4 separate regions of the Homo sapiens genome follow, and regions 1, 3 and 4 are each reported to be linked to region 2. Evidence: microRNA targets listed by miRTarBase, many of them from high-throughput screens and not tested one by one. Region 2 holds a microRNA gene; each other region holds the end of a gene's coding sequence.
What was found. Region 2 holds the annotated microRNA hsa-miR-8063 (UCAAAAUCAGGAGUCGGGGCUU, at 2,330-2,351, opposite strand). A microRNA usually pairs through its seed, bases 2 to 8, with sites in the 3' UTR of a target mRNA and lowers its output. Matches are read on the target gene's strand: a 7mer-m8 pairs with bases 2 to 8, a 7mer-A1 pairs with bases 2 to 7 and ends in A, and an 8mer does both.

Region 1: miRTarBase lists LIMD1 as a target of hsa-miR-8063. Seed matches in the 3' UTR shown: 7mer-m8 at 6,502-6,508.
Region 3: the mRNA of LSM8 is a reported target of hsa-miR-8063. Seed matches in the 3' UTR shown: 8mer at 6,569-6,576, 7mer-A1 at 6,424-6,430, 7mer-A1 at 4,966-4,972, 8mer at 3,286-3,293 and 7mer-m8 at 2,549-2,555.
Region 4: miRTarBase lists DTL as a target of hsa-miR-8063. Seed matches in the 3' UTR shown: 7mer-A1 at 1,411-1,417 and 7mer-m8 at 2,840-2,846.

Annotation. Positions count from the first base shown.
Region 1 is chr3:45,675,705-45,683,600 of GRCh38, forward strand. LIMD1 (LIM domain containing 1) reads left to right here. Exons shown (of 8, transcript NM_014240.3): 8 at 1,218-7,896. The coding sequence ends at 1,355. LIMD1-AS1 (LIMD1 antisense RNA 1) reads right to left here. Exons shown (of 3, transcript NR_033947.1): 2 at 3,342-4,367; 3 at 2,461-3,227. Among named protein-coding and RNA genes, the nearest start is that of LIMD1-AS1, 9.2 kb to the right of the region's middle.
Region 2 is chr15:36,970,502-36,978,397 of GRCh38, forward strand. MIR8063 (microRNA 8063) reads right to left here and starts at 2,400; the gene lies at 2,320-2,400. All of the region lies in intron 8 of MEIS2 (Meis homeobox 2), which reads right to left.
Region 3 is chr7:118,190,775-118,198,670 of GRCh38, reverse strand. LSM8 (LSM8 homolog, U6 small nuclear RNA associated) reads right to left here. Exons shown (of 4, transcript NM_016200.5): 4 at 1-6,759. The coding sequence ends at 6,669. Among named protein-coding and RNA genes, the nearest start is that of LSM8, 11 kb to the right of the region's middle. RefSeq lists an enhancer at 2,584-2,643 and a silencer at 7,598-7,813.
Region 4 is chr1:212,101,782-212,109,677 of GRCh38, forward strand. It overlaps DTL (denticleless E3 ubiquitin protein ligase adapter), which reads left to right. Exons shown (of 15, transcript NM_016448.4): 15 at 1,061-3,232. The coding sequence ends at 1,159. Among named protein-coding and RNA genes, the nearest start is that of MIR3122, 28 kb to the left of the region's middle.

The DNA of each region.
Region 1 (7,896 bases), not on the chromosome of region 2:
TTTTATTCGGTTCAAAATATCCAGCCAGGCATGGGCCCATGCCTGTAATCTTAGCACTTTGGAAGGCCGAGGCAGGGGGATCACATGAGCCCAGGAGTTTGAGAACAGCATGGACAACACAGTGAGACCCTGTCTCTACTAAAAATACAAAAATTAGCCAGGCATGCTGTGCCTATAGTCTCAGCTACTTAGGAAGCTAGGATCGTGTCACTGCACTCTACTCTGGGTGACACAGCAAGACCCTGTCTTAAAAAAGTAAAAAATCCTGCTGGGCGTGGTGGCTCATGCCTGTAATCCCAGCACTTTGGGAGGGCAGATCACTTGAGGTCAGGAGTTCAAGACCAGCCTGGCCAACATGGTGAAACCCTGTCTCTACTAAAAATACAAAAATTAGCCAGATGTGTTGGCGCGTGCATAATCCCAGCTACTTGGGAGGCTGAGACAGGAGAATTCCTTGAACGGGGGAGGTGGATGTTGCAGTGAGCTGAGATCGCACCACTGCACTCCAGCCTAGAAAACAGAGGGAGACTGTCTCAAAAAAGAAAAAAAAATCCAAATGTTATCTTTTGAACATGTAATCAATATAAAAAAGTTACCCATGAGATTTTTTTTGTAACTCCACAATTTATTTTATTTCTTCTAAAAAAAAAAAAGGGATACGTGTGAAGATTTATTACATAGATATATGTTGTACGTGTGCCAGGGTGGTTTGCTGCACCTATTGTCCCATCCTCTAAGTTCCCTCCCCTCACCCCCACCTCCCAACAGGCCCTGGTGTGTGTTGTTCCCCTCCCTGTGTCCATGTGTTCTCATTGTTCAACTCCCACTTATGAGTGAGAACATGTGGTGTTTAGTTTTCTGTTCCTTTGTTAGTTTGCTGAGAATGATGGCTTCCAGCTTCATCCATGTCCCTGCAAAGGACATGATCTCATTCCTTTTTCCCATGAGATATTTTTACATCCTCTTTTTGTCCTAAGTCTTCGGAATCTGCATTTACACTGACAGCACATTTTAAGTGGTTCACAGCAAGTGCCTTGTGGCAGTGTCTCCTGTGTTGGACAGGCCTCCACGGGGCAGGAGCTGTGTTTCTGCACTGGCATTTCCTGCCTATACAGAAACACACAGCACCCTCTGCTGATTTTGGGGACTGTGGCCTTCAGGTCAGTCTTGCAGTCTGTTTTGTTTTGCTTCCCCTGGACATGTCTGCCTCCCCACAGGACTGTGGTCTGGAGCTCAATGATGAAGATGGCCACCGCTGTTATCCGCTGGAGGACCACCTGTTCTGTCACTCCTGCCACGTGAAGAGGCTGGAGAAGAGACCCTCATCTACAGCCCTTCACCAGCACCACTTCTAGCCAGAGCCACTTGCAGACATCACGGCAGGGGATGAGGAGCCGGGGTTGCTGCTGCTGCTTCCGGTGGCCCCTGGGGTGGAAGTGGGGTAGGGGAAGAGGAGGGGCAGGAGGGAGAGTTCCTGTGAGCATGTGGGGGGTGCCTTTCCTTTAACCAGGGAGGTGAACACTACCTGCCTCCTGCGTGTATTTTCCAAGTGCTTTTCTCTGTTGCCACATTTTCCTCAGGTTACTCAGGAAAATGCTCCAGCATGTGCGAGCACATGACCTGAGGTTGCATCATAGCACCAAAGGAATCCTCCTGTCCCCTCTGGGAACATTTCATGCTTCAGAGGGAGAGGTTTTTATTGAGCTTGTTTCACAATATCCCCTTGAAGGGACAGCTCAGCTGCCAATACATTCAACCCTTTCTCTTCCTTCAGGAAAATACCTATACCCAAATGTTCCCTCCCCCGACATATATCATGGCATGATTTAAGGCTTCTTTTCACCTGAGAGCTTCAGTTCTTCTGCAGAATGGCTGCAAATTTAATTGCATTAAGGCAAGAAGGAAGCTCTAATGTGTGCTTTGTATCCTAAGATAAATTTGCTTAGAAAACCAGAGTCAAGATTTGAAATAGGTGAGGCAGGGTTTCCTCCTTAGACACTGACAGCATTCTCTGTACCCCTTCAAATCCTTACTCTCCTAAAGGCAGCTGAGTCCGCGACAGAAATTTGCCCTATGTGAGTAAAACATACTTTGGGAGAAGAACTTGGTGCAGGCACCAGGATTTTTTTTTTTGCCCACGTGTTTGCGCTGTTTTTCTCTGGAGTTCTCAAGAGTTGGTGACTTGGAAGGCCGCTTCTGCAAGGCAAGTCTCAGGAACCCATGCAGGTACATCGCTTGCACCTGTTTTTAGCTTATTTAATGACGGGCTTTTGGGAAGAGCTGCCCGCATACTGAGAGACAGCTTCTTATAAACAAGGAGAGTTTTTGTGTGTGCGAGATCTCTAAGCCAGCGTGGGAGGGAGCGCCTCAGGATAAGTTATTATATTCATTTCGTTGGTTTCTCTCCTGCCCAATTCTTGGCACAGGCATTATGTTTGAAGAAACCAGGATAAGGTACACTGCTTTTGTCTGTTTAATTTTTTTAGTTGTTTCCCTTCACTTTCAGTCTTCCACACACAAAAAATACCTCACAGAGCTTCACCAAATCACAGATTCAGGAGGAATTTGGCTTTCACACTGGACTCAGATACCTTCTTCAGTGTGTTGGAAATCACTGGCTTCACACAGGCCCAACTCCAGCTGGTCAGGGCAGAGTGATCGTAACTAAAGGTCAGTGGGGAATAGATCCGATTCAGTGCTTTTGCCTTATGCATTTCAGCATCCTGGCTCCCCAGGGTGGCAGGAGCTGAGGGAGGGCCACACACTGGCAAGATTTCAAGACCACTCTCTGCACTGAAGAGGTAAAATTTGCACTGCAAGTCACATCCCTGAGGCCAGAGGTCAGTACCCTTTGGTATTTCGATTAGAAGAAGCTGCAAAAGAAAGGCAGCCCATTTTACCATTGCCAGCCAGGCCGGGGACACAGGAGCCGGTGTGTGCACTCTGCCTCCTCACCTTGCACCCAGAGCAAGAGGACTGGGTGCTGGGCTGCAGAGGCCGGTCAGTGGAGCCCCTAGCACGTGTGAACTCAGGCTTTTCATTGGGCCCGGCTCCACTTCTAGGCCATGTTTTGACTCATTTGGTAACCATTGCCTGTAAGCAGCACAGAATTGGTGCCATGGATTATCTTTTCCATGTTGATGGAATTCATTCTGTTGGAATCCTTTGGCCAGATGTCACTTCAGCCAGGGTGTGCATCATCATTGGTTCTTTTTCACAGGCTGAGCCTCCTGAAAACCCATGAACGCTGGGGCTGGGGAAGTGAACCCTGAGGTGGGGACCCTCTCTTCCCATCAAATCATCCAGCTCAGTGTGGGGCGTGGCAGGGGGGTAAATGAAGCCAGCCAATGTGTTAACCTGTCTCTGTCAACCTAAGAATGTTGGCCTTACTGACACACCTTTGCTCCATGTTCAAGACCAGAAGTAGCTGGGATTTGTTTGCAAATTGGGTAATTAGTTTAAAAATCTGTGATTACATTTTTAAATGAAATTTTCAAAGTGGCCTAGATTGAGGTGATTCAGATAGGTTTGCGAATATACCATTTTATATTGTTGAGAAAGAACAAAAAGGGAATTTCCAGATGTCCTAGAAATCCTAGCAACAGATTTCTCTGGTTGTCAGTTTCCCTGGAGAAGGCGCCAGATAGGAATCTCCAATCAGTTGTTTTTCTCTTCGCTTCAGGCCCTTACACAAAAGCCATGAAGAGATGTTCACCTACCCGGTATTTTAAATGTTCTGTAAATTATTAGCCAAATAGAACTGTAATGGGGTTGTATTTATGGGCGCCTAGAAAGAAAACACAAGGACTTGGTAGGCCAGGAAGAAAAGATTTTAAAATTTAGAATGAATAGCCCTTCTGGGTTTTCTTTTTGACAATTCTTGGACTTGAGGTAAAACAAGGAGGATTGTGGCCGGATTTCAGATCCCAAAGCCAGCCTCCATCTTAGGCCTTTGCCTCATTGTGCCTTTTAGGTTTTCTTACCCACCGTCTCCTGTTTTGTCTTTTTTTTCTTTTCTCCTACCCCTATCTTGGGACATTCAGAAACTGCCTGGGTGGTTTGAGAAGAGACAACCCAGTTTGATCTGCAATACAAGGATCCATTCGTAATCTCTCTCTCACTGATGTTATTCCCCCATCTGCCGTCTTGGTTCATCTCACCACAGAAGGGCATTTAGTCCTACCCAGCCATCGGCTGCGTATGACAGCAGGATGGCACTTCCCATTTCTCTGTGGTTAGTGCTCGAGTGAAAACCTCTTTCAGCTGAGTCCTCTGAGGTTCTGCTGTTGAGTCCTGGGTGGCTGATGGAATGATTGAGGAGGTCTGGTCACCCTCAAGCGCCGTCATCGCCTTGTTTCCATGGGCTTCTGTCACACAAAATGAAGAACAGAAATGTTAGGACTTAAGAGAATGTTTGGAATTCACACCTCTTTGCAGTCCTTTCAAGGCTGCTGCTCTGTGCTGTGTCCCATGCATGTGAAAGTAGAGCTGTGATGGCTGCTGGGACGCTTGCAAAGATCATGTGTGAGAATTGAGCACAAGACCACAAATTATTACTGCTTGATGCGCTTGTTAAAACTCTATCTGCCAGGAAACCAAATTTTCTTTTCTTTTCTTTTTTTTTTTGAGACAGGGCCTCACTCTGTTGCCCAGGCTGGAGTGCAGTGGCGCGATCTCAGCTCACTGCAGCCTCCACCTACTGGGCTCAAGTGATCCTCCCACCTCAGCCTCCCGAGTAGCCGGGACCACAGGCGTGTATGACTGGCTACGCCTGGCTAATTTTTGTATTTTTAATAGAGACGAGTTTCACCATGTTGCCCAGGATGGTCTGGAACTCCTGGGCTCAAGTGATCTGCCCACTTCCGCCTCCCAAAGTGTTGGGATTATGGCCATTAGCCACTGTACCTGGCACAATTTTTTTTTGTACCCTCCTTTATGCCAAGAATCAGTCCTAATTTCTTTACTATGTGAAGTAACTTTTAAAGGTAATAGAAAAGGCCAGGCACAGTGGCTCATGCCTGTAATCCCAGGCGCCGTGGCTCACGCCTGTAATCCCAGCACTTTGAGAGGCTGAGGCGGGTGGATCACTTAAGGTCAGGAGTTAGAGACCAGCCTGACCAACATGGTGAAACACTGTCTCTACTAAAAATACAAAATTAGCTGGGTTTGGTGGCGCACGCCTGTAATCCCAGCTACCTGAGAGGTTGAGGCAGGAGAATCGCTTGAACCTGGGAGGCAGAGGTTGCAGTGAGCCGAGATGGTGCCATTGCACTCCGACCTGGGCAACAGAGCGAAACACTGTCTCAAAAAAAAAAAAAAAAGTAACAGAAAAAAGAGTGAAATATATTAGCTATCTTTTATTCTGAGCCAAAACTTGACAGATGTGGGAAATCTTCATATAGTGTATGAAAATTTCATTGTACAGGGAAATTATTTTCCTCTGTGTCTTTTCTTTTACTATAAAGTGATTCAGAATTTTACTGTTACTATAAAATTATGCAAAGTATTGTGACAAAACTGCATCAATTTGTTGACTATTAAAGTGCTCCTTGAACATTATATTTCCTGGGTCTTTTCTGTGTGTGGAGTCAGCAAACTGTTTTTTGCTACCTGGACTTTGTCTTCTTTTACAGCTCTGGATTCTTAAAAGTACCACATAGGTAGCAAACCTGTGAAGGGTATGAGATTTTACCCTACTTGCAGGCTAATAAAGTGAGCACACCACATGGGTTCATGGATCCTGGCAGAAGTTATGAGACTCATAGGTCAGAGACAAAGGACAGTTTATTATAGCAATAGCAGTGGCCAGATTATCAGCATTTACACTGGTTCCCTGAGCCCCAGGCCCCAAGAAGAGGGCCAGGTGAGACCTGCACACGCAGTGGGCTGCATTACAAGAGGAACCCCCATGCTTAGGGGACCCTGGTATTTGATAATGGGCAGTAAGCCTGCCTGACTTTTGCTCCAGAGACAGACACTATCTCTGTCATCCAAGACTGTTCACTAGATAAACATCCTTGAAAATATAAGTCTGGAACCTGGCAATTGGTGTCTATTCTTACCAGATGTATAAAAATGTGAGAGGCCTTGGAGAATCATATCCCAAGAATCAGCAGTTTCTTTTACTGGACCTTTAAGATTGAGACTTGTAAGGTCCTGATGCAGTGACTTGTAAGGTCACTTTGTCTCTCTTGTGAATGTTACTGTTTTTTCTCTTCTGAGGTTATGACCAAAGAATCCTCAAGGCGAGTGATCCTTCAGGTTTGAGACAGCCACATGCAGGAAGACAGGACTTGTAGAGTGTTGGGGCCAAGTGTGTGGTTAGAATCCTTGGGGTGGGGAAAGAGTTTGTTCTAGACTCCAGTGTAGTCCTTGTGGCTACCAGGTCTGACGTGCCAAGGACACGGGAAAGCTGGGAGTGAGGATACTCATAGTCATAGCACCTTACACCAGAATAAAAGTTTTTTTTTTCTTTTTAAGTGATGAGAGAATGGCTAGTCTGATTTTGCCAACATGGGCTGCTATTTGCTTAAGACCTTGATGGTATAAGGAGTGAAGATGCAATCAGGGTAAAAGGCGGTCTGGAGTTGTGGTGTGCTGGCAAACCAGCCCTCTGGGGCAAAAAATTAAAAAGCCTTGATATGGAGTGTTTGCTGATACCTATGATGTAAATATTCCCGCCATGGCCACTTTCCAGCTACCAGCAAGGCATCCTGGCACCAGGGATTGGGAGGAGATGGCATAGTCCTAAGAGTCAGCCTTGGGCATTGGGCCATGTGGGACTGGGCAGTGGGGTATCTGGTCTGGTTCTAAGTGCTGTGATGAAGCAGTAGCAGCTGTAATAGCTGGCATTTCCCGTGTGCTCATCACATAGCAGATGTTATTCCAAGGACTGTATGTTCTTTATCATCCCTCATTTGATAGACAAGACAACTGAGACACAAAAGGGTGAAATAAACAGTAAGTACTCCATCCCAGGCCATCTCATCCAGAGGGTGCTGTCTTGACCACTCTACTACTCTGGTTGATGGGAGGCAGTAAATTGTCCATCAGTATACTTCTTCATCAAAGCTACATAGTCAAAAAGCCACAGGAGGCTGTGAGGAGAAGCTCACTGCTGCTCTGTTGAAGTCTGTATTGGTTTCCTATGGCCACTCTTAACAAATTACCACAACCTCAGTGGCTTAAAACAACACAAATATATCATTCTGTCATCCTGGACACGAGCCAAAGGTTGTCGGCAGAAGCGAATTGCTTCCAGAGGTGCTATAGGGTGCTGCCCATTCCTTGCCCCTTTTCCGCTTCTAGAGGCTGCCCATTTTCCTTGGCTTGTGGCTGCATCATTCTGGCTGCTTCTATTGTCACACCTCCTCTCTGACCCTCCCTGCCTCCTTGTAAGGACACTTGGGATTACGCCCATCCAGATAATCTAGAATAATCTCCCATTTTGTGATTCTTAATAACATCTGCAAAGCCTCTTTTACCTTGCAGAATAAGATATTCACAGGTTCTGGTGAGGAGGACAGGGACATCTCTGAAGGGGAGGGAAGCAGGAGATAGGGTCTGGAGGCATGGAATTGGCTTCCTAAGGCCAATTCAGGCTGACTTCCTAGAACTAAGTCAAAAGGAAAACCCCAACTTTCCACGCTCAAGTAACAAAAGGACCAGAGGCTACTCCCTTTGCAACCTCCCCACCCCCAGCCCCTTTTCTGCATGGCAGGTGAAAAATTGAAAGTATCGCTAATTGATCCCCTCCCACAACCAATCAGACTGGTCTTAGGCCAAGTCTTCATTTGCCTAGGAGTATAACTTTGTAACTTCAGCCTCTGATTGGGCGTTTTACACAACCAGTCAGATGTTTGTATAGGGTGGTGTAACTTTGTAACTTTGCTTCAG
Region 2 (7,896 bases):
CCCTACAAGAAATCAGAGAGTGCCCACGATTTGAAAGAAAATCTGGATTTCAACATTATCCTTTGCTGTACAAATCAGTGGAAGTGTCCACATTACTGTCTCCAACATAGCACAAGGAAAGTGATTCCCCTCCCAGACAAGAGGTTTCTGACACTTGTCTTTATTGCCCCATCATAAATTCATAAAGGGATGTCCGCTGTAACCAGTTGGCAAGTTCACTGCATAAACATCAACACCAATTTAATGACTGTGTACACATCGTAAACTAGAGAATCTTTATACAAAGAAATCAGATAAATCAAACATGAGCTGAGGCTAAGGAGAAAGCAATTAAAGCTTTAGGTTAAGGTGGCTGCGGGAGGGCACTGTGTCACGTTAGAGCAGAGAACAGAAAATGTGTTAATACAACTGCAGTATGTATAATTAAATTAATTAGTAATATAAAATGTGTTTAAAGCAACATCTCATCAACAGATTAATAGATAAGAAACTTTTAGAAGTTTTAATTTTCCCATTGTATGTGTTCAAAGAATAGGAAAAAAAAAACCCTCTGAAATTTCCTAAGGGGTTGATAAAAATAAAATTGCTGTGGTGGTGGGCTTGGGGGGGTGGGGGATGTAAAGTCGATTTACCTGCCTCTGGCTAGTAACAGGAAAAAGGAATAATCAGAACATAAAAACCTGTTTGGCCATATTTCATCTCCTTATAGCATATTGAAATGTTTTGGCGCCAACTCATCTCATTCTAATACCTCGAAGGCTGGTATAAAACACCTTTAAGGCACATTGTTTTCTGAGCAATTATTTAGAGTCAATGTCTAAGAAATGCTTAAGCATCACCTGGTAATACAAATTTTAAAGTTATATTTAAAACACCCAAGGAGGTTTTTACTGAACAAAAATTAGATTGCCTATATGCCAAAGCTCCTCATCAACTGAAAGCTGGAAGCTAAATTTGGCCGTAAGAAACTGGCTTGGAACTTCAGAAGTTCTGGGGCCAAATTCAGCCCTGTATTACTTGTATGCCTTGTTACATTAAAAAAAAAAAAAAAAAAAAAAAAAAAGGGCTGTTCCAGTGATAGCAAGCATTCCATTTATTCATCTCAAAAGCAATAAGATCCTAGAATGGAGCCTTCATAACACAAAATGCTTTTAAGTTTTCCCTGAGGGGAACACAATATACACAATTCATGTAAAAAGAAGAAAAATGAAAGCTAAGTATTTCAGTTAAGGGTCAGAAATCAATATTTCCTTAACAGCCTAAGCAACATGCATTACTCTTAATACAAATACTCAGAGACTTTACATTCTTCATAAAGGGAGATTTTCACATAATTGGGGTTGAAAGTGGCAGAATATGCTCTCCCAACTTAGTTTCTATTGCTGCAAAATGGAAAAGAATATATTTGGACAGCATTTCACTGATCCCTGTCATCCTCGGTTAAAACTTCTTACCTAAATGTCCAAGTGTGGAGCAACACGTAACTAAATTTTAATACATCTCAATGGAATATGATAAAGACATTGCAATATCAATAGGAGAACAATATAGTAACAGAAACTATAAATGTAAAACTAACTTTATTGAAGAAATGAGAATATGGTATTTTTCAGGTGGCAAAATTTTTTCATGATGTTCCGTTATGCTGTCAATAAAAAGTTTTAAAAAAGAAAAACTTCTGCCTGAGTAGCACAAAAGTAAGTTATGATAAGATGTAGTAGGAAGAGAATGAACCTTAAGAGATAAAGTGTAACTAAAAGGACTGAGTTTAAAAAAACAAACATCCTGACTAGCTGGTGAGCATTAACATTAGTCCTCCTTCTGTTCTCCAGAATGGAGCCAGAGTGATCCCTGCAAAGGACCCGTGTGATTTTGTCACTCTACTGCTTGGCATGCTTCAGTGGCTTTCCATTATTTTCAGGCTGAAGACGAAAATGTTTATCATGGCCTTCAAGGTACCCAATGATCTGGTCTCGAACTCCTGACCTCAAGTGATCCGCCCACCTTGGCCTCCCAAAGTGCTGGGATTACAGGTGTGAGCCACCGCACCTGGCCAATAGAAACTATTTTTAAAAATTCATTTATGTGTCTTATGCCTTTTAAAATATTTTTTGTCCTGTTTTCTCCTTCTTTCAATAGTGTACTCTGATATGATTCAAAGGAACCCCAGGGACCAACACCTCTCCTGGTTTCCAAAAGACCTTAATTTTACTACAGTTTAAGATTCAAGTGTATAACAAATTCTTTTTTTCTAAAGCAGAATTTAGAGGAATCAGTTGTGACAATTCATAGAGATACACTTTTTTTTTTCTGTGCATGAAAAGCAGTAAAGCCCCGACTCCTGATTTTGAAACCAATTTCTCATATCAAAAGTCTACACATCTGTTGAAACTGCCTCTATTGCTTAGGACTAAGAAACAATTTCTTTGTATGGGCTGACTGAACAACTATCTTTTAAATCTCTTAAGTATGTACTAGAATTAGTCTGTGTTTGCATAGACATCTTTTACTTGTCGATATACACCAACACAGCTGTGGAAGAAAGACTAAGCTTTAGTTTCCACTTGGCCATCGGAAACTAAAGTCACTTAATCTCTCTAAGCCTCAGTTTGCTCATCTATAAAATAGGACAATAATACCTGCTTTACAGGTATTTGGGAGGATTAAGTAAGAAAATGATAGAATCATGCTGGATAAGCTGTAGAGCATTTACAAATAGAAAACATAATCAAGATTCCACTTAGCTTGAGGATTCAGACACAGAGTTTTGCAGAGTGGCCAAGTCACAAAAGGGCTCTTCAAAGGCTTCTACTCTCTGGTGTGACACTGGCACAACACCTATTGCCCCGGTAGAAAGACCTTTATTTCAAAATGTTTCACTAGGAAACAGTTAAAAGCTGTTCTTTGGTTAAGCGCACTGACTCTTATTTGGATGCTGCTGCCTCTTTAAAGCTTAGATCTGCATTCTTCTAATGGAGAAAAGGAGAGTAGGCATAAAACTATAGAATAAAGAGCCTGGAACTTAGTAGGTGTTATAAAACATTGGTTTAAAAAAGAAAACATGAGTGAATAAACCCAAAGCGTTCATCTATTTTAAATTATCCGAATTGCCATGGTAAAATACAAGTTGTAATTAGAAGAATCAGGTTTGGTGCTTTGCACATAATAAGAGTTGAAAAAATAAAGAGGATGACTGGAGTAATGACGTTCAAATAAGAAGTTAAAATATTAACACTAAAAAACTGTAACTGAACTTTTAATTAAAAAAACCCTAAAAACTAATGACATTGTTTTCTTCTTATTTAAAAAAAAAAGCCAGTATTCCACTTGAAATGTTCGTGAGATATACAAATCCACTGATTTCCAAAATTAACCTTATGATATTTAAAGATGATATATGCCTTGTTGTCTATGGATACCTGCCAGAACTTGTACTTACGTATTTCTAAACACTTAATTCAGCAATATTTCACATCAATTTCCCCCTCGATTTTTCTAGCTATCATGCCTTGAGAGCAGTTCCTATCTTTGACCTTGAAAACTCTCAATAAAAATCAGTCACATTTCCATTTCCTAGAAATTCGAAGAGTGTCACCAAACTTTCAGGTACAGATAAATTCTTGTCTGGTTATCCTGTATTGTGAAATGCCAGCTCTTCATTATTTCAGAACATTCTATATCAGGGCTGATATTGAATCTATAATTTTGTGTTTTAAAACACCAAACATCATAGTGAAATTCAAAAAATGAATTTCAGAATTCTGAGTGTTCATATTTCAAGCTCCTACATAGTTCGTTTATTTTTTCTTTCCATCGAGCCACAGAAGTTGACCCCAGTAAGACCATTAAGTCCACTGATTTCATTAGTAATATTTTTGTTCACACTCCAAAAATCAAATTGTTCATATTCCAAAAATTAAATAATTTGGTTTATCAACATTTCAATGATTTTCCATATTCTCCCAAATTATTTGAGAGCTATGACATACCACGTTAACATTTACATATGAAAAACAGAAGCAAAAAAGCAATTTTCCTAATAGAAGGCATTTAATCACGTTGAAATAAGATCTTACCTTACAGGGCTGCCCCTCAGCCCACCTTATACTTTCTGGATGTTTAAGTCTGTGGCTTTGACTTACATGGGTTAACGTCCTCTGTAAGCTAAATCCAGTATCAGATGGATATGGCATGAGGAACCAGCCAGCATGAGGAACCAGGTCCTACTGTTAAATCTGCGTGCCATGTTCAGTTGAGAACAAAACAGTCTTTCCCTAGTCTCTGGTTTCTCTGGCGTTTTGGGGTGAGAAAATAACTGAGTTTAGGATAGACACACTCATCAGAATTGTTCTTGAAACCCTTTGCATTTCAATCAGTGCAAAATGCTTTTTAAATATTCCTGCTAACACGTGCCCAAGAGAGAAGAGTCGGTCTCATATTTTCCCAAAGATCAAAATATCAAGAGATGGGAAATCCCTCCATAGAAAACCTTATTATCAAGGCTAAGGCAAGCACCTGGGGAATTAATAGCTGACATACCTCATTTTAAACACCTACCATATGTTCATGGAAAATATAGCCACGTTACTTATCACTTTCTGTTTTCCTTTCATTGGTTTATGTTTTGCCTTGAATAAAAACTGCATGAAAACATAGTCTTATGTTACCAGGTATGTATCTCCTCCGTGGAATAGCTCAATAACATTTTTAGTGTTTTATTTATGCAAGCAAAAATGCTCCTCAAATCAGTGCAGCTTGAACTGCTTGAAGAATGCTTTTTGAATTCCAGAATACTGAAGTTTTTTCTAACATCACTCAGGTACAGATACTTCCCAAAAGGCCTGTGACTGCCTTTTCCCCTTTTTGTTTTTTAAATCCCATATCTGTGTTTCAGTTTTCTTTAAATTTATTCATAGTAGAATCATGAAACTTCTTAAGGCCAGGCGGTGGGTTTATAAAAAATAAGGGTTTTTTTTTTTTTTTCAGAGTTCCATGAATTTACTGAACGTCTACCATGTGCTAAGCGCTCCTCACATACACCTGCATCAATTTTTCCCTTCTTGACAACAGTCTGAGAAGGTAAGTGATGTGCTTAGGTCACAAAGCTAGTGAGTGGTGGAGCTGGGAATCTAACGAGGTTTTGGTTTTTGTTTTTACTTCCAACTGTTTGTTGTTTTGGCTGGCACACAATAGACGATGTTCATGTGCACAGCCACTCCCAGGGTGAGTCCAAGGTGAGATGACATTAAGAAAGCAAATGTGTAGGCAGGAGGAATAATTTCAAGAGATCTATCGTACAGCATGGTGACTACAGTCAAAAACAATGTATCGTATACTTGAAAATTGCTGAGAGCAAATTTTAAGAATTATCACCACAATAAAAATAAAGTATGTGAGGGAATGCATATATTAATTGGTGGGTTTAGCCATTCCACAATGTATATGTATTTCAAAACATGATGTACACTGTAAATATATACAATTTTTATTTGTCAATTACAAAATAAACAATTTTTTAAAGTTTCTACCAACACTTTATAAGTAAGGGAAATTAAAAGGAAAAGACAAGTAATTATAAAGAGTTTTATTTTATTTTTTTTTGAGACAGAGTCTCGCTCTGTCACCCAGGCTGGAGTGCAGTGGCGCGATCTCGGCTCCCTGCAACCTCCGCCTCTCGGGTTCAAGCAACTCTCCTGCCTCATCCTCCCACATAGCTGGGATTACAGGCGGCCACCACCATGCCCAGCTAATTTTTTGTATTTTTAGTAGAGACGGGGTTTCACCATGTTGGCCAGGCTGGTCTCGAACTCCTGACCTTGTGATTCACCCGCCTTGGCCTCCCAAAGTGCTGGGATTACAGGCGTGAGCCACCGCGCCTGGCCTATAAAGAGATTTTTTTAAAAAGAAAGCAAATGGAAATGTAAGTGGGTAAGAGTGGCTTCTTCTGGGCAGAACTATATCCATATGTATATTATATTATATTATTATATGTATATAATTATATTATTATATGTATACTTATACATATATATCATTGGAAACATCAGTTCTTAAATACTATGACACACCACAACTGACAGAGACTGAAGGCACAGGTGCTATATCTCTGTGCCTAGGAACCTAGACAAATAGCAGCAGATCTAAGGGTTGATACTGAATTGCTTATACATTTGCAGAAAAAAATTAACAGATTAATAGAAAATGATCATTTTTGTTTGTTTTCTAATATGATCAATGGAGACATGCAATTCAATATTTACTATCCACCTACTATGGGCAAGGACTGTAAAGAGGAGTAAAACACAATCCCTGCCTTCGAAAACTTAAAAACTCAAATAGGGGCCAGGCGCAGGGGCTCACGCCTGTAATCCCAGCACTTTGGGATGCCAAGGCAGGCGGATCACCTGAAGTCGGGAGTTCGAGACCAGCCTGACCAACATGGAGAAACCCCATCTCTACTAAAAATACAAAAAAATTAGCTGGGCATGGTGGCGCATGCCTCTAATCCCAGCTACTCAGGAGGCTGAGGCAGGAGAATCGTTTGAACCTGGGAGGTGGAGGTTGCAGTGAGCCACGATTGTGGGATTGCACTCCAGCCTGGACAACAAGAGCAAAACTCCATCTCAAAAAACAAAACAAAACAAAACAAAAAATTCAGGGGAGGTGTGGTAAGTGTATATATATATAACAATTCAATAATAAAATTTTAGAACCAAAATTCAGTTGAGGAAAAACACACTTTTCAAGAATGTTTTATATACTTATTTAAAACCAGGCTTCTCATAGCATCAATATTAAAGAAAAGGATTTAAATCAAATCCATGAAATACATAGCAAGAAATGAGACACACTGAAACACAAACTTAAAAAAAATCTTGTTGATTGGAAGGAATGGGGAAGTAAAGTAGCAAAGTGTTGAATAGCATAGTTTTTGACATCAAAGAGAATCAAGTTCAAGCTCCCAGTTGAATTTACTATTCATGTGATCTTGGGTGAGTCCAGGGATCATCACCTACTAGAAGGAATAATAATGCCTACAGCACAGAGTTGTCATATTAAAGAAGATAATTCCTGTAGTAAAGTATTTAATAGCATAGTGCCCAACACACAGTCAACTAATAATATTAATAAATATCAATAAATATTAACTTAGCCACAAAAGGTCCAATGTGTTAGTTAAACTACAACAGCTGACACAGAAAGCAGGAGCCTTTTATTTACAGAACTCCCTATCTCTAATTCCTAAAGATAAAACTTAGAAAAGGCTGGTTGATCTTTATCTTCTTGAGTGTTTTCTCTCAATAAGGGCTGTAGTGATCACAGGCCACCACACAGTGAAGGGCATTCAGCATCAAAAGTGTAACCAGAGGAGAGCCCAGGCAAACAACCTGAATTCCACTCCATTTACTGCTTGCTGAGCAACTACTATACACAAAATACCCTGCTTAGGATCTAAAATTACCCAATTGAAAACTTTCCTTGCTAGCCCTCTAGAAAGGCACATGTTCTACAAGGACATAACTTTAACCTGTGACAAGTTTTGATAAGCAGTTATTTTCTGGTGAAACCATGGATTAAATGTACCTCCTCTGCATTTGGTAAGATGATACATTATAAACAAAAATTTCTTAACAATTAATCCATGTTTCTTCTCAACAATACAAATTTGTTTCTGGTCTTCAGGCCAATTAATTTCCTTGGCATTTACAACAACAACAATAACAATAAGGATTAACCTTTTGTTAAGTGCACAGTATGTGCCAGAGACTGTGTGTTAGGTGATTTACATTTTTGCTAATCCCTAGAGCAATTTACAGATGCAGAATCTGAGATGTTAAATGACCTGCCTGAGGTAACACTGTCAGTAGTAGCAGAATCCAGATGAATTGAATGCAG
Region 3 (7,896 bases), not on the chromosome of region 2:
CAATTTGAAGTTTTCCTAACCATCTATGGAAATCCTTACTATCCTTAGGGTCAAGCACAAGTCATCCATTTCCATGAAGATTCTCCTCCAATCTCTCCCATATTGCTATGCATAGAGGAAAATGCATCTTTGCCATGCATGGGAAGCTTTTATATATTGCCTTCAAACACCAGTTTACCGGGCATGTCATCTCTGTTACTGTCATGCAGTAAATACTCAGGAAATGAAGGATTACTAATGAGTTGTTAAGGTTTATTCTTCTTTCTTTAATGTAGAATTTCATTTGACCTAAAATTATCCTTCCAATCTTCATAGAATATTTGGTTTTAATATACAAAATTAAATATGCAAGCTCTTATCCATTCTTCATTTCAGATCTCTGGCATATTCTCATTTCTCATTTATCTTTTCACACCAAAGAAATCTAACCTTTTTATAACTTAATCACTTTGACTCTGGTTGCTCCTTTCTGTACTTTCTCTGCCTCGTGTTACTTTTAAAAATTTGATCAAATTTTTAATTTTAAAATATGTGATTAAAAACATCACATTACCTTTGCACCAGGGAAGCATACTTTCATTTACAATAAATTTCCAGTCCTGTCCAGAATTTTCATAGTTTTTCTTTTCACCAAAATTATCAGGGAATGCTATCAATTACTTCTTAGTACTTTTCCTAGGCCACAATAAATAATTTGGAGTCCATCATTCAATATCAGGATAATTGTTAGCTATCATTAATATTGACAAATTAGTATGTTCTAGGGAGTGCTAACTGCTTATCTTAATCTTGACAGTACAAGGAAGCAGGTACTCATTTTCATAGCAACTAAGACATGGTAAGATTAATATGCTAAGCTCTGCAAACTAAGTATGACTCCAGAGTCTGTGCCTTTCACTGCCATGCTACACTGGACTAGCCCAAGACCCTAATCAACAATTTCCTTTTAAAAATCATACCTCCTATGAGTGTGAATTGAAGTGTCTCTGTAATTAGCAGAATCACAATTAAAATAAAGCTTATCCAAGTCAGATTCAGAGAGCTATTTTTTAAAATAAAAATTTAAATTTTAAAATAAAAAATTTAACTTTTAACTATCATTGTGATCACTTTCAGGGCATTTATTTTAAAATGTGAAATAAGCCATAGTGCAGCATTTTCTGGCAACTTGTATCAGTTAATGAGTTTTCTAGAGTATGATTTATTATAATCATTTTGTTGATATGAGATGAAACATGATAGCTTGTGCATATTTTCATATATCAAACAGAAACATATTAGTTTCCTGCCTGTTCCCCACCCCAACACACACTAGTTTTTAATACAAGACACAATGTATTGTGTCCCTGGAGTTGTCTCCCCACCCACCCTGACTCCTGGATTCTTTTTAACGTATTTCAAATGTAATAACAATTTGGTACCATACTAATTATATGGCATTTGTAAAGCCAGTATATGTGGAAAAAAAAAAAAAACCTACATAATAGCAAAATATATGCAGTGTAATTGAACATTACCCTAAAGAGAAGAGAGAAAGCGTATCATATCCTTGTAGGGACATTGATGGGAATTTGATACCAGTTGTAGCAATGCTTGATCTGTGCCATTTCTAACAAGTAATACTCTGTAAAATAAAAGGACTTAGGCTGGGCGTGGTGGTTCATGCCTGTAATTCCAGCACTTTGGGACGCCGAAGTGGGCAGATCACGAGGTCAGGAGATCAAGACCATCCTGGCCAACATGGTGAAACCCCGTCTCTACTAAAACAAAAAAATTAGCCAGGTGTGGTGGCGCGTGCCTGTAGTCCCAGCTACTCGGGAGGCTAAGGCAGGGGAATCGCTTGAACCCAGGATGCGGAGGTTGTAGTGAGCCAAGATTGCACCACTGCACTCCAGCCTGGCGAAAGAGCAAGAAGTGTCTCAAAAATAAATAAATAAATAAATAAATAAATAAATAAATAAATAAATAAAAATTAAAGGACTTAAAAAAAAAGAAACATTAAAAAAAGAAGGAAATGAAAAGGCATAACAAAAAACTAACACAAAAATTGAGTTAAAAAAAAACTTAATGCCAAAACCAAGAAGAGGTCGGAAAGGTATCTGGAAGAACAATTCTCAGCTCCTTCATTCCCCAGATGATGCCAGTAAGTAGGAGATGGCATACTGTTAACTAATGAAAGAAATTCTCCTGGTGAAGTCCTATTTCGCCTTTATCCTTAGAATTATGCAACCTACAGACTTAGCAATCTTAAAAGAAAAAAAATAGATGGGGAAAATAATTGACTTGAATTATATTTATTTTAAAAAGACTGTTTCTAGTTGTTTTGAATGAATCCAGAACCCATAAATTATATCCCAGAATACTGAAAGAATCTGATGAAATAACACGACCTTCGACAGTAAATCTGAGTCAAGATGATTTGGTTGAGGTAGATACAGACAGATAGAAGCTTCACAAGCACAAGAATACTGTTCCCTGGCCTATCCACAGCTTTGAGCATACTGCCTGGCATGTATTAATGGCTTGATAAGTGTCCCTGACAAAATTCCAAAATCTATTTTTTTGAAGTTTGTGGACAGGTAGAAAAGAAAGCAATGGCCACTAGGAGGCAGCATCGATTTATGAAGACTAAGCACGTCTCATGGTTTCCCACTATACAGAGGAATGAAGATCACATCAAAGCATCTGACCAAATCTCACATCAATAATCCCTATAAACAGGATGGAGCATAAGTACTAGATATCTCACAATTAAATGAATTTGTCGCTAGTTTAATGGGAGCACTATGCTATTTAATGGGTATCAATCTAAATGGAGATAGCTTTACCTTATCAACATTTTTTTCAGTATTACATGTAGACAGAAAGGAATTTTTATCAAATTTGCCCATGACTTAAAACTGAGATTCACAGCCCAAGTTTTTTTAAACCCAAAATAAGTAAAATTTAATTTAATAAAATTAAATCTATATGAGGTAATGACTATACAAGTACAGAATGGAGAGGTTCCTCTTTACATGTGAAAGACCTTTGAGTTTACACTTTCAAACTCCTTGAGTCAAGAATATTCGCTGACATAGAAACAAATTTTATTGTACATTTCTTAATACTGTAAACTTACACGTACTTCCCACATAACCTCAATTCCTCATCTATTCTCTTGTAGAGATATGGTAGTCAGTGGGACAGACGCTTAAAAAGCTGACAAGACCTATATTTTTAACTTTTATACATTGGCCTTTGACTACCTGGAATAGTATTAAATAGCTGTTTACGGTTATGTCCTCAAAATCATACCAAATGTTTAAAATGCAGTCTAATGCTACTTTTTACAACCCAAGAAGATAGCTGTTATTATCCTTATCTTGAATAAGATCCTGTGTTTGAAATCAATTCTGTGGGGTTAGAGACTCATCCCAGCAGGTAAGTGCTAGGTCTTTTAATAATTCCACCACTTTCCTTCGCTGTTTAGTGACTATTCCTTTTTGCTCCATTACACAGCTGCTGAACCACAACGAGTAGGGCCCAAGAAAATTTTTAAAGCACCTTAGGTAATTGTAATGAAAACGGCCCACAATGCAGGTTTGGGAACTGCGTTAGATCATCTGAATATTTCTCATCAGGCTTCTGATAGATGCTTGATAGCAGATTTTAAGACTATACTTTCTGATAACAGGCAGTATTGTATAAAAAGCTGAAAGACCTAGTTGAATTTGAGCACTGTTACTTACTAGTGCTACCTCTTACAAGTCACTTGACCCTGCTGAGCCTCAATTTTCCCATATATAAAATGATCATTGTAAGCACTCAGCACCAGGCCTGGCACATGATATGCACTCAATAAATACTACCTACTAATTTTGAAGATGAAGGCCCAGAATATACTAACTATATTGTCAGTTAAGAGTTGCCTTACAACCCTGGCTACTAAATTGTCTGGTTCACATGCCATTACAAAGGGCCTTTACTTTCTCATTCCCATGATGAATCTCAGGTTACACGGCTGAGGAAAATGTTGACATCGTTATTCTGTATTTGCATTAAATACCATTTAAAAGTTGTTTTTATCATACTTATATCTCACATTATTACCTTAAAAATTCCGAAGGATGTTATAAAGTTGTTAAACAGGATGTTTAAGCAAATATTAGTAAAACTTTCTCTCTTGCTCTTCTGGGATCAAGATTTGTAATATTTAGCCAAAACTGTCAGCATGTGAGGCCAAGTTACCAAAGTGCTTTGACATAAAAGCAATGTTATTTTAAACTATTAGTTTAGATAGTATCTTGTCAGTTAAAAAAAAAAAAGTCCCTTTTGCAGTTAATTGCCCTTTCCAAATAACTTTAATGAAAATATCTTGCCAAGAAACATCTCTTTGATTCATTAAGCTGGGTTTAGATTGTGCCTGAGTCACAAAGCACAGAGGTAATTACAGGTTGAAATTGATTTGCGCCTCTTTATAAATAAGAACTGATTATAGAATAAATGTCTCATTAAATATAAAATATTGACACTGTATATTAATTATGTTACTACTCATGGTTGTGGCTCCCTTACAATTCTCATGCAAAAATAAATCCAATTTTAATCGGTTGTGAGAAAACAGTCCACCATGTGCTTGTATCCAGGAATAAAGAATTACATAGATTATCTGGCATATTGTCATCACATCCTCTGTAACTATTCATAAAAACAATAATTCACATTTTGGGAATGCTTTTTCCAACATCAATCAGGAAAATACAGCTTTATAAGGTGTTTCAGATTGCAAGAATACATCACATTAGAAACCCATTATCATGAGGGACAGGACTGGTTTTTATTTGTTTATGTGTAATGTGTTGATATGCCAAGTATTTTGAGAAAAGATCTGACTCTGGACTTCATTTGTACTGTTAGAATGCATTTTTCTTAGCAACTGAACAATGTGTATTCTTATTTAATTTTTGGAATTACTTTACCAATTCAAAATGCCATATACTACAATATTTCATTCACAGTCCCTAAATTTGCCTGTTTGCCTTACCCACTTTCCATCATTTTATTAATAAATTGATTATAAAACATTATACTACAAGTCAAGTACTTATGAATAGCCAATACTAGCTAACTTCTCTAATTCTCCCAGAGACAGCCCTTAACATCAACCAAATAATTCTAGAGAATAGTGCTTCTCCCCTTATAAGGCTGATTTGAGTGAAGATATTTTCCTCCCCCAAAAAGCTATTATGTTTAATAAGTATGAAGTTTAAAATATTTTAAAATATGAATGAAACCCACCTCTAAACTCTCTATAAGGATCTATTCCAGAATTTATACAAATTGTTCATTTTTTCTTATTGAACTTGTATTAAGCCAAGGGTCAGCAACTATGCCTTCAAGCCCAATCCAACCCCCACCTCCATTTTTATAAATGAAGTTTTACTGGAAGACAGCCACTATTCATTTATGTATTATCTATGGTTATTTGTAGGCCACAATAGCAGAGGTGAGTAGCTGTGACAGACCACATGGCCTTCAAAGCCTAAAAGACTATCTGGATCTTCATAGAAAAAGCTTGCCAACTACTATTTTTAAGCACTTTCATAAAAACAAAACAAATAAACTATTTAAATTTGTTTCAATTACAAGGATGTAAATATTTTTCTATGTTCTTCTCATCACAAAGACACACACTTGGGCCTATACATGAGTTGATCAGAAATTTTATGGACTAGCCTGAATATCTAAACACTACTTACATTGTTTCTTTCAATTATTTAAAAAACTGAGTTGACGTCTTCTGAAATCAGGTTTATGGATAATGAATCATGGAAAATTGCTGACAATAATAGCTAGCACTACTTCAATACAAACTTAGAGTTTATTTACTCACATTTATAAACTAACTTTAACATTAGAAATTCTCCAATTCTTAAAAATTAAAAATTGAAGACTACATGGAATCAATTTTTTTCAAATATACTGTCTGTAAAATTCAACATTAATGTGTTCATATTACTTTCATACCTAACCAATTGGGCATCAAGAGACTTTACTAATCATCTCTGTCAATTCTACCATTCCTAGTCATTCTTAATATTCAAGTTAGAATTTTGGGCCAATCTATCAAAACCTTGTTAGCATTTTTGCTTTTCTCAAGCAAACACATTTTTACCTACCCACACCTCTCAGTGCTAGGGAGCAACTTTTAGAAGCACTAGCAAACTACCACCAGTGGAATCGGATAAATGCCAATGATTCAGATAACTCCAGCAAAGATTTACCCTCCTGTGATTTTCCTAAACATCAGGGAAAGAAAACACATATATCCTGTATTACTGTTACTTGAATGCCTGATTTATATAGCACACTAATTTCTCTTTTCCACTAGTTTCCATAAATACTAAAGTATCAAAAAGTACTACTTTTTTCTAAAAGTTTTCAAAATGCCCATTATATTTTCACACTATTTAATAAAAAAAAGAAACCAAGCTACCAAACTTATATTTAGGCAAAAAAAAAGGTTTTTTTTTCAATAAAATGTAGAAATATTTTAATTTACATATTACAATGAATCAATAAGGAGTCAAAATCCAGTGACACACTCATAAAAACTCCATATATCATCCTCAGAATAATCAGTTTCTGTACAAAGATTTACAGATGTCCAAGTATGTAGTTTTTCCTCAGTGTGCTACAGAATTTAAAGGTTCTGCTCGAATATTCCCCAAATCAAGCGCAGAATCTGTTTCTTCATCGATTTCTCCAATGACTGCACTAAAAAAGTCAGAGTTAAAACAATCACATTTCTGAAATAAATTACATGTGTTTCAAAAATCTTACTAATCAAATCAAAGCACTGAGTACCATTCTTCCAAAAAATAAAACTGAGAGAGCACAGTAAAAAGAATTAAGGTAAAAAGCAAACAACATTGGCGTGAGTCAGTGAACTGCATATTTAAGTCACAAAACTCAAGAAATAATTTGAAGGCACATTATTACAGGAACCAATATTAAAGGACACATTGTACACAGTGATTGTATCATGAATCTTTAAAGGAAACAGACACACAAGGATAGACACAGTAAAAAACCCTCAAACTTCCAAACCATATTTCAATTCAATTCTAGGACTGTATTAAAAATAAATTTCACAAAATCACTCCTAAAATAATTAGCAAGTAAAAATATCAATCATTTGAGTAACTTTGATGAATTAAATCAATGATATAGACAACAGCGATTAGATTGTTTTCCTAAGTTTTCAGTTAAATCCAAAGCCAGTTCTTCATATACAAAAATAATAGTAGGAACAAGTACTTTGGTATCTAACAAATCATTTTTGACGTGATTGGCTCAGGTTAAAAGCTAGAAAATTTTTTCTTGTTCAACACTAACATAGTATCTATAACTTTAAATTCATTAATACCACGCTAGATAACCAACCCATAGCCCTCTAACTGGAAATATTCAATGTTATCACTCAGACCACAAGATGTCTATGAAATATTATTTTTAAAAAGTATTGGTTGGGTTTACATTTGTTTGGTTTTAATGAGAGTAAATTCTTTTTTTTTTTTTTTGAGATAGAGTTTCGCTCTTGTTGCACAGGCTGGAGTGCAGTGGCACGATCTTGACTCACTCCAACCTCTACTTACCAGGTTCAAGCGATTCTCATGCTTCAGCCTCCCGAGTAGCTGGGATTACAGGCGCATGCCACCACACCCGGCTAATTTTTGTATTTTTAGTAGAGACAGGGTTTCACCACGTTGGCTAGGCAGGTCTCGAACCTCTGACCTCTGGTAATTCGCCAGCCTCAGCCTCCCAAAGTGCTGGGACTACAGGTGTGAGCCACTGTGCCCGGCCAAATTCTAAAGACGAATACTAGTAATAAGGGATTTGCCAAATTTTGCT
Region 4 (7,896 bases), not on the chromosome of region 2:
CAGTCATCAGTGATTGATGGCAGAAATAGGTTTGTGAACCTTGAAAAACAAGATTCATTACAGTGGTGGAGGCAGAAGTAGCTGAGTGCATTGGGTGAGCTATGGGCACCAGTCAGAGAGAATAAAAAGCTTCTGTTGTTTGCATGTGAAGGGGAGATGGGTTAAGGAAGTTTCCACTGTACTTCACAGTAGCTCTTGTGGTGGCGGGATGATTGAAATAGAATCCAGAATCATGATCAGCATCATCTGCCATTTTAAAGGGCAGAAGCTAGATAACCAACCTTAGGCCAGTTTTAGTTTAAAAAGTGTTCATAACCCCGACCTGCTCTCATGAAGACCTATCCCATAATTTTAGAAAAATAAACTGATAGATTTTAAAGACAACTTAGTACACAAACTGCAATCAAGACCTTGCTGTAGAAAGTGGAGAAAAAAGACAGTTATAAGGAATCTTTCCTTCTCTCAAAATTATGACTGCTCTTTATCCCTAGCCAAAATTTCTATTTTTTTTTTCAAGGGAGCTGGTCTCAGCTATGTGTTAGCAGAAAAGTAGTTTCAATGAAAAACTATTTTCACTGATACATAAATCTTAAAATCTTTAAAAAGTAGAAACAGTGTGCTGGTCTTGTAATTTATTTGAAGCTAACATTTCTTAAAAATTTTTTACCTTTATATGATGATAATGTCAACCTTCAGAAGAGAGTAACATCTTCCATTTGAATACCTATCTTGTTTATAAATTGGGGGGGCTGATTTATTCATTTATTTCAAAAAGGATAGTAATTGTAACTTATTTGTTTCTTATTAGGAGACTTAGCTAGTAAATGTTTTCTATTCACATAAGAAGTCTATGCCTTCTTTCCCTACATATCATCTGTTAAGTTTTTACTATAGTCAGTACAAATCAGCCAAAAGAGACATTGCCATTGAAAGTATTTGGAGCTGAAAGCAGGCTAAACAATGAAATTTCTGGCAGCCTAATTTAAGGTATGCCTTAGTAATAACTTAGTAACAGTTGAACTTCAAGGAAATCTCTGAAATCTAAACTTTCTTCTTCTAGGTCACCATCACGCCCAGCTCCATGAGGAAAATCTGCACATACTTCCATAGAAAGTCCCAGGAGGACTTCTGTGGTCCTGAACACTCAACAGAATTATAGATTCTAATCTGAGTGAGTTACTGAGCTTTGGTCCACTAAAACAAGCTGAGCTTTGGTCCACTAAAACAAGATGAAAAATACAAGAGTGACTCTATAACTCTGGTCTTTAAGAAAGCTGCCTTTTCATTTTTAGACAAAATCTTTTCAACGCTGAAATGTACCTAATCTGGTTCTACTACCATAATGTATATGCAGCTTCCCGAGGATGAATGCTGTGTTTAAATTTCATAAAGTAAATTTGTCACTCTAGCATTTTGAATGAATAGTCTTCACTTTTTAAATTATTCATCTTCTCTATAATAATGACATCCCAGTTCATGGAGGCAAAAAACAAGTTTCTTGTTATCCTGAAACTTTCTATGCTCAGTGGAAAGTATCTGCCAGCCACAGCATGAGGCCTGTGAAGGCTGACTGAGAAATCCTCTGCTGAAGACCCCTGGTTCTGTTCTGCCTCCAACATGTATAATTTTATTTGAAATACATAATCTTTTCACTATGCTTTTGTGGGGTTTTTTTTAAGTATGTGTAAAAATGTGATGCTCAGATAAGTACATTTATATCAGTTCAGTGTTAAAATGCAGTCTCTTGAGTTAAAGTCATCTTTATTTTAAATGCAGTGATAAATGTCAACTCTTCGGAGAAACTAGGAGAACAACAACAGAAAGCTGTGTTTGTCTTTTTTCTCTCAAATATATCTCCCGTATGAGATTTCAGGTCCCCATGTTTTCACCAAGCAATCTGCTATGTCAGCCAACCCAACATCACTTTCTACAGGAGGTTATGATTTTTGCCATTTACTAGAGGAAGATGTTTTATGAAATCAATTTGGGGTTTGAATTCAGGTGCAGTCATCAGTTCTTTAGGGGCTGCAATGTTTTAAAAAAAATAAGTCATCAGATTTTAAGAAAAAAGTGATGATTTCTTATTGATATTTTTGTAACAGAATATAGCTCTTAACTGAAAATCCAGAACCAGAAACATAAATCTTGAGTTTCTTTTCATGTACATAAAAAGCAATAGCCTTTTAGTATAGATAGCCCTGAGCCAAAAAGTAATAGAATTTTCTCTAGATATTTAATACAGAGAGTGTATAGACTGACTCTAAGTTAATAATGTGCAAAATATCTTAAACATCCCTCCCCTTATTCAACAATTATGTATCAGTGATCTTGAACCATTGTTTTATATTTTTCACCTTTGTAACCTCATGGAAAGAGGCTTTACATACTTTCTATGTACTATTTACTTAGAAGGGAGCCCCCTTCCAGTCATGAAACTTCATTTGTTTTATCCATATCCCTGAGGACTGTGTAGACTTTATGTCAGTTTTTGTCATTATTTGAAAATCTATTCTGACAACTTTTTAATTCCTTTGATCTTATAAGTTAAAGCTGTAACAACTGAAATTGCATGGATCAAGTAAGCATAGTTTTATCCAGGGAGAAAAATAAAAGGAAGCCATAGAATTGCTCTGGTCAAAACCAAGCACACCATAGCCTTAACTGAATATTTAGGAAATCTGCCTAATCTGCTTATATTTGGTGTTTGTTTTTTGACTGTTGGGCTTTGGGAAGATGTTATTTATGACCAATATCTGCCAGTAACGCTGTTTATCTCACTTGCTTTGAAAGCCAATGGGGGAAAAAAATCCATGAAAAAAAAAAGATTGATAAAGTAGATGATTTTGTTTGTATCCCTACCCATCTCCTGGCAGCCCTACTGAGTGAAATTGGGATACATTTGGCTGTCAGAAATTATACCGAGTCTACTGGGTATAACATGTCTCACTTGGAAAGCTAGTACTTTTAAATGGGTGCCAAAGGTCAACTGTAATGAGATAATTATCCCTGCCTGTGTCCATGTCAGACTTTGAGCTGATCCTGAATAATAAAGCCTTTTACCTTATCTGATGTCCTTTTCTGAGCTTTTTGCATTACCTAGAAGCAGTCTACAAAAAAGAACTATAGTAGTCAAGAATCCCTTCTACTTGTTCATTAAAATGTTTATTCCCAAAGTTATAATCTATTTCAAGCTGAAAGAGCTTTTAATAAAAAACATCTTGCTTGGATCAGACTTTGAGCATTTAAGATGGCTTGGATTACTTGATAAAGCAGGGTGGAGTGATGTAGTTCTTTTTCTAAACAAGTATTTCCAGCACAAACTTTTCCATTTGAATACATTCCAAGCACTATTGCTAGGATCCCGTATTAGAGTTTGCTTTTGGCTGTTTCAACACGGGCCCTTAATTAAATTTTGTGAGGATGACTGATTAGTGTCTTCAAATGTCTCTTCATCTGGACTGCACATTTAACTGATGTTGGATCAAGACCATGTGTAGCTACTCTTGTGTTGAGGGTCAGCCCATTATCCCCATCCCCAGCCCTAACAGCTTAAAACAGCTTTAACTCCCATCTTGAAATTAGCCTATGGCCATGTTCATAACATAGGTAGTGTGTGGGTTCAACAAATGCTTTTTGAGAGCCTGTCATAGCCAACACACTACTGCTCTTAAGTCTGTTTTTCTGCTTTTCCTAGTCCCTAGTTCCTTTTACATTGCTCTTAAAGCAAAGGCCAAGTAGTCTAACAGAGAAAAATAAATTCCACAACTAAGATAGTGTGGGCAACATTTTACAAATGTGTGTCAGAAGACAGACTGAGTGAAAACATTGTACTAGAAAAACTGAGTTAATTTCCTCCCTATGGCAATTCAACACAAGTGGTTTCTGCTTCATAATTCCATAAAGGGCTAAATGTAGGCCCAGTTGAGCTCTTGCAGTAGATCTCATTGCTTCTCACACAGGTCTTCACAGGGAATTCTTTGCCTGCCCTAGGTTTGGATCATGCCACATTACCAATTAACCCATTACTCATAAAATTCTCAGGGATTATGGTAAAAAAATTGGATTATGCATCAGTTCTTTAGATATTGGTTGGAAGTTATAGGCAGGCTGAACACATTTTGTTGGACTTGAGTTAAGTTTAATGCTTTGATGCCTGGAATACGACCCCAGCTTGTTATAAGTTAACCATTTTGTTCCCTAAAGTGGTAGCAAAACCTGTTTTATTTCTGAGCTGTGTTTGAGTGCAAGCTAAAAAGTGTAGGGGTTGTTAAGAAATGATATAAGATAAATTCAGCCTTTAAAAAAGAAATCACCTGAGCATATTAAGCAGCTTGTTTATATTGGTATGCCTGCAGCAAGCATATACATCACAAATGAGAGATATTGTGTTATTAAAGAATAGGCTTACTTGATCCCCAAAGTTCATCCCTTGCTAAGCCAGGAAAGAGGATTTTTAGGGTATGCAACCAGGTTCTTCACTTTGAATGTAAAAGGTTTAATATTCCATTTGTACTCCATTTCTCTTTAATTTCCTTAACTTGCCACATGCCCCTTTGTTTTGACATTCTGAATAGTTTATATTCAAGCCATTTTGTGAAATATGAATAGCACATTTCAAAATGCCTTTGATTGGAAGGCGTTTAAGTCAGCCAACATTTACATATCACCTGGGTGCCAAGCCCTGTGTGTGAGGCACCTGGTCTGCAAAGAGTTCCTTTCTTTATTTTCAGTTGCCAAAGGAGTCACTTTAATACTTCAGTAGGCCAGAGTCAGCATTTGAGAGAAACAGCAAAGATCAGATTTCAAGTCCTTTGAGTAAAGTTGTTTGTAATCAGCTATTATGTAGCAAGTACTGTCTAGAAGCCTACTTTTCCTCCAGGAACTTAATTCAGCAGCTGCTTAGAACTTTTAACTTCTCAAAGTAAAATACTTTTTGGATACATGTTTTTATTATATTCCTTATAAGGTTATAAATAATGGTTGAAAACATGATCCCTAGTGCCACACTGTCTAGCTTTAAATCCAAGCCCTAACTGTGTCCGTGGACAAGTTACTTAACCCTTCTGTGAATGAGTTTCCTACCTTAAAATGGAATTATGTGGGGCCGGACACAGTGGCTTATGCCTGTAATCCCAGCACTTTGGGAGGCCGAGGCGGGCAGATCACAAGGTCAGGCAATTGAGACCACCCTGGCCAACATGGTGAAACCCCATCTCTACTAAAAATACAAAAATTAGCTGGGCTTGGTGGTTCACGCCTGTAATCCCAGCCACTCGGGAGGCTGAGGCAGGAGAATCGCTTGAACCAGGGAGTCAAGTGGTTGCAGTGAGCCGAGATTGTGCCACTGCACTCCAGCCTGATGACAGAGCGAGACTCCGTCTAAAAAAAAAAAAAAAAAAGGATTTTTGTGGTTATTACATGTAAAGCTCTTAGGACAGTGCCTGGCACATAATACCTAATGTTTTATTAAACAGTTGCTGTTAGCTGTTAAGTATGGAGGGCAAGAGTTATTATCTATATTCGATACATGGACATAAAAGTTCAGCTCATTCCTGTTCCCTTTCCACTAACAGCTGCAGTCTGCAAAGGTCTTCACAAATCAGAATCAACTGGTAATTAAAAAAAAAACAACAAAAGCATGAATGTTGCCTGGACCTCCCAGTCCCAGCACTTTTCAAAAGGAGCAAGTAGGTCTGTGGGGAAAAATCAAGTTTGAAATTCATGACTTTGTCTCGCCAGGTACACATGAAAATTACGGAGATTATTTCATATGTGGCCTGTAGCCACTGTTCAAAGAGACCATAATCTTCAAATCTATATCCTGAACTCTTAAACAAACCAAAGCCTTTGCTCACACAAAGCCCACCCTCCCATTTCCTGACTGCTGCCCCCAGCTCTGCTACATTGTTTAAGATGTGATCACCTTTAGAGAGGAAGCTGCAGCTGCTGGTCTTTAGAGCCAAGAGCCAACTCGTACTTGCTTGTTGGGCTATTGTGCTCTCTTGCTTATGAGCAGACAAATAAAATAGGTAAAGTTCAAAACAAGCCATGTTGCTGTCTGTTAGTAGTAGGATACAAAAGAAGATTCAAACATTTCATTGAAGTATAATGAAGACTCTAGATTCTTTGCTCTCACTTGATGAGATTCTTCCCCAGGCTACTCTGTTTTTGATGCCAATAAAACTTGTCATTCTCACATCAGTGTGAAAATACCAGCCCTGAAAGTTAGCTTGATATTTGGGTGTATAAATCCAACATTGGGGTTTCAGCTGTCATCTAAGCATTGAATTTATGCTGCCACTGATGCTATTAGGGACCCTAGTTTCCAATTTACAGGAACTTAAGGAATGTGGTATGCTTTTATTAGAAGCTGGTATCTGCTCCTGCAAATAGTCCTGCCACCTTGTATCCCCTTCATGGGTTTGTGCCAGTTATCAATTCAAATGAATATGTTAAGAGCTGGGTTGTTTTTTTCTTGATAACAACCTTGCTTACTTCTGAAGTCAAGGTCTAAAAGTAATTATACAAATCAACCCTTTATCAATCTATTACCACATGATATATGTTACTGAAACAAAACTAAGCCATCTGGCCTTGCTATGTTGACATGGAGTTAGCAAATATTGTTATACCACGTCACTTGATAATCATTCAGGATGACTGTTAATTTCTCTTTCACCTTTCCCCCATCTTCTGCAATATATTCAAACACAATTTTCCAAGAATTATTTGAAAAGAAGCATAAGGAGGATTTATTAAATGTAACTGAAATAACTTATTAGTGGTTCAGGAACTGAGAAGTTAAAATCCAGTGGGCATTGTTGCCTCTATAAGAGGCAACATTCAGCCCAACCGTTAATGTCAAGTTGGAAATGCTGCTTCCTCAAAAGCCGTTTTGGATTTAGACAGTTTTATATGGGAGTAAGAGACTCAGAGTCCAAAAATCAATGTCTTCACAAAGAGGAAGACAAGTTAAAACGAACATTAAGATCTTGAGCGTGATTATGATAAACACTTCCCAACTCCCTAATTAGGTAATGAGGTATTGGCCTTGGAGTGCTGCACCTGTAATTAAGTATCTGGCTTTGGAAAACTCTCCTAAAACCAAGAAGTGTAAGTGACAGAGTCTGAAGTTATACACGGAAAGCCTGCAGGATAAGGAAAATTATAATGATTAGGAATAGTTTCTGTTCCAGTCAACTCTCCTGTACAATAAATTGCACAAAGAGAGGATGCTGTTTAGAGCAGCTTGTTAATTTGAGTTATCCTGTTGTGTCCTCTTGCCTTCCTGTTTACGTTGACAGCATTTCTAAGCCCATTTATATTCTCCCTTTTTATGTCATTTTGGCCACTGGACTCATTTGAGTAGTGCATGAAGCCAGGATTGTGGGTTTCATTCCTAAATGGGCCAATTCATTTCACTGTGTATTCTGTGGCCACAGGCAGCATCTCACATGCCTGCGCTAGCCAGCCACTCCACAAAGAGGAGTGGACAGAGTTTAGACTTAGTATAAACACTAGATGGAAACTCATAGTAGGTATCCTCACTACACAACCTGAAGGCATTCTCAATGCTGCCTGTCTTTCCTCTTCCTGCCTGAAGACCAAATGTATAAACCTCTTATAATCAAAGTTGTAGATTGTTTCATTTAGTGCACACTCCTATACCCACTTGTAACCCTATAAATGGGTATAATTATTATCCCCATTTTTTTTTCAGATAAGGAAACTAAAACACAAGTTAAATAACTTGCCCAAGGATATGTAGCAAGTGGCAGCTTGTGGATTTGGTCTGACTCAAAGCCCACAGTCTTAATTCCCATCCTAGAGTGTCTGTCCCCTGGCCCTCCCCATCAATCAAATATGTGCTTTACATTGTCAGTATATTTAAAAGAG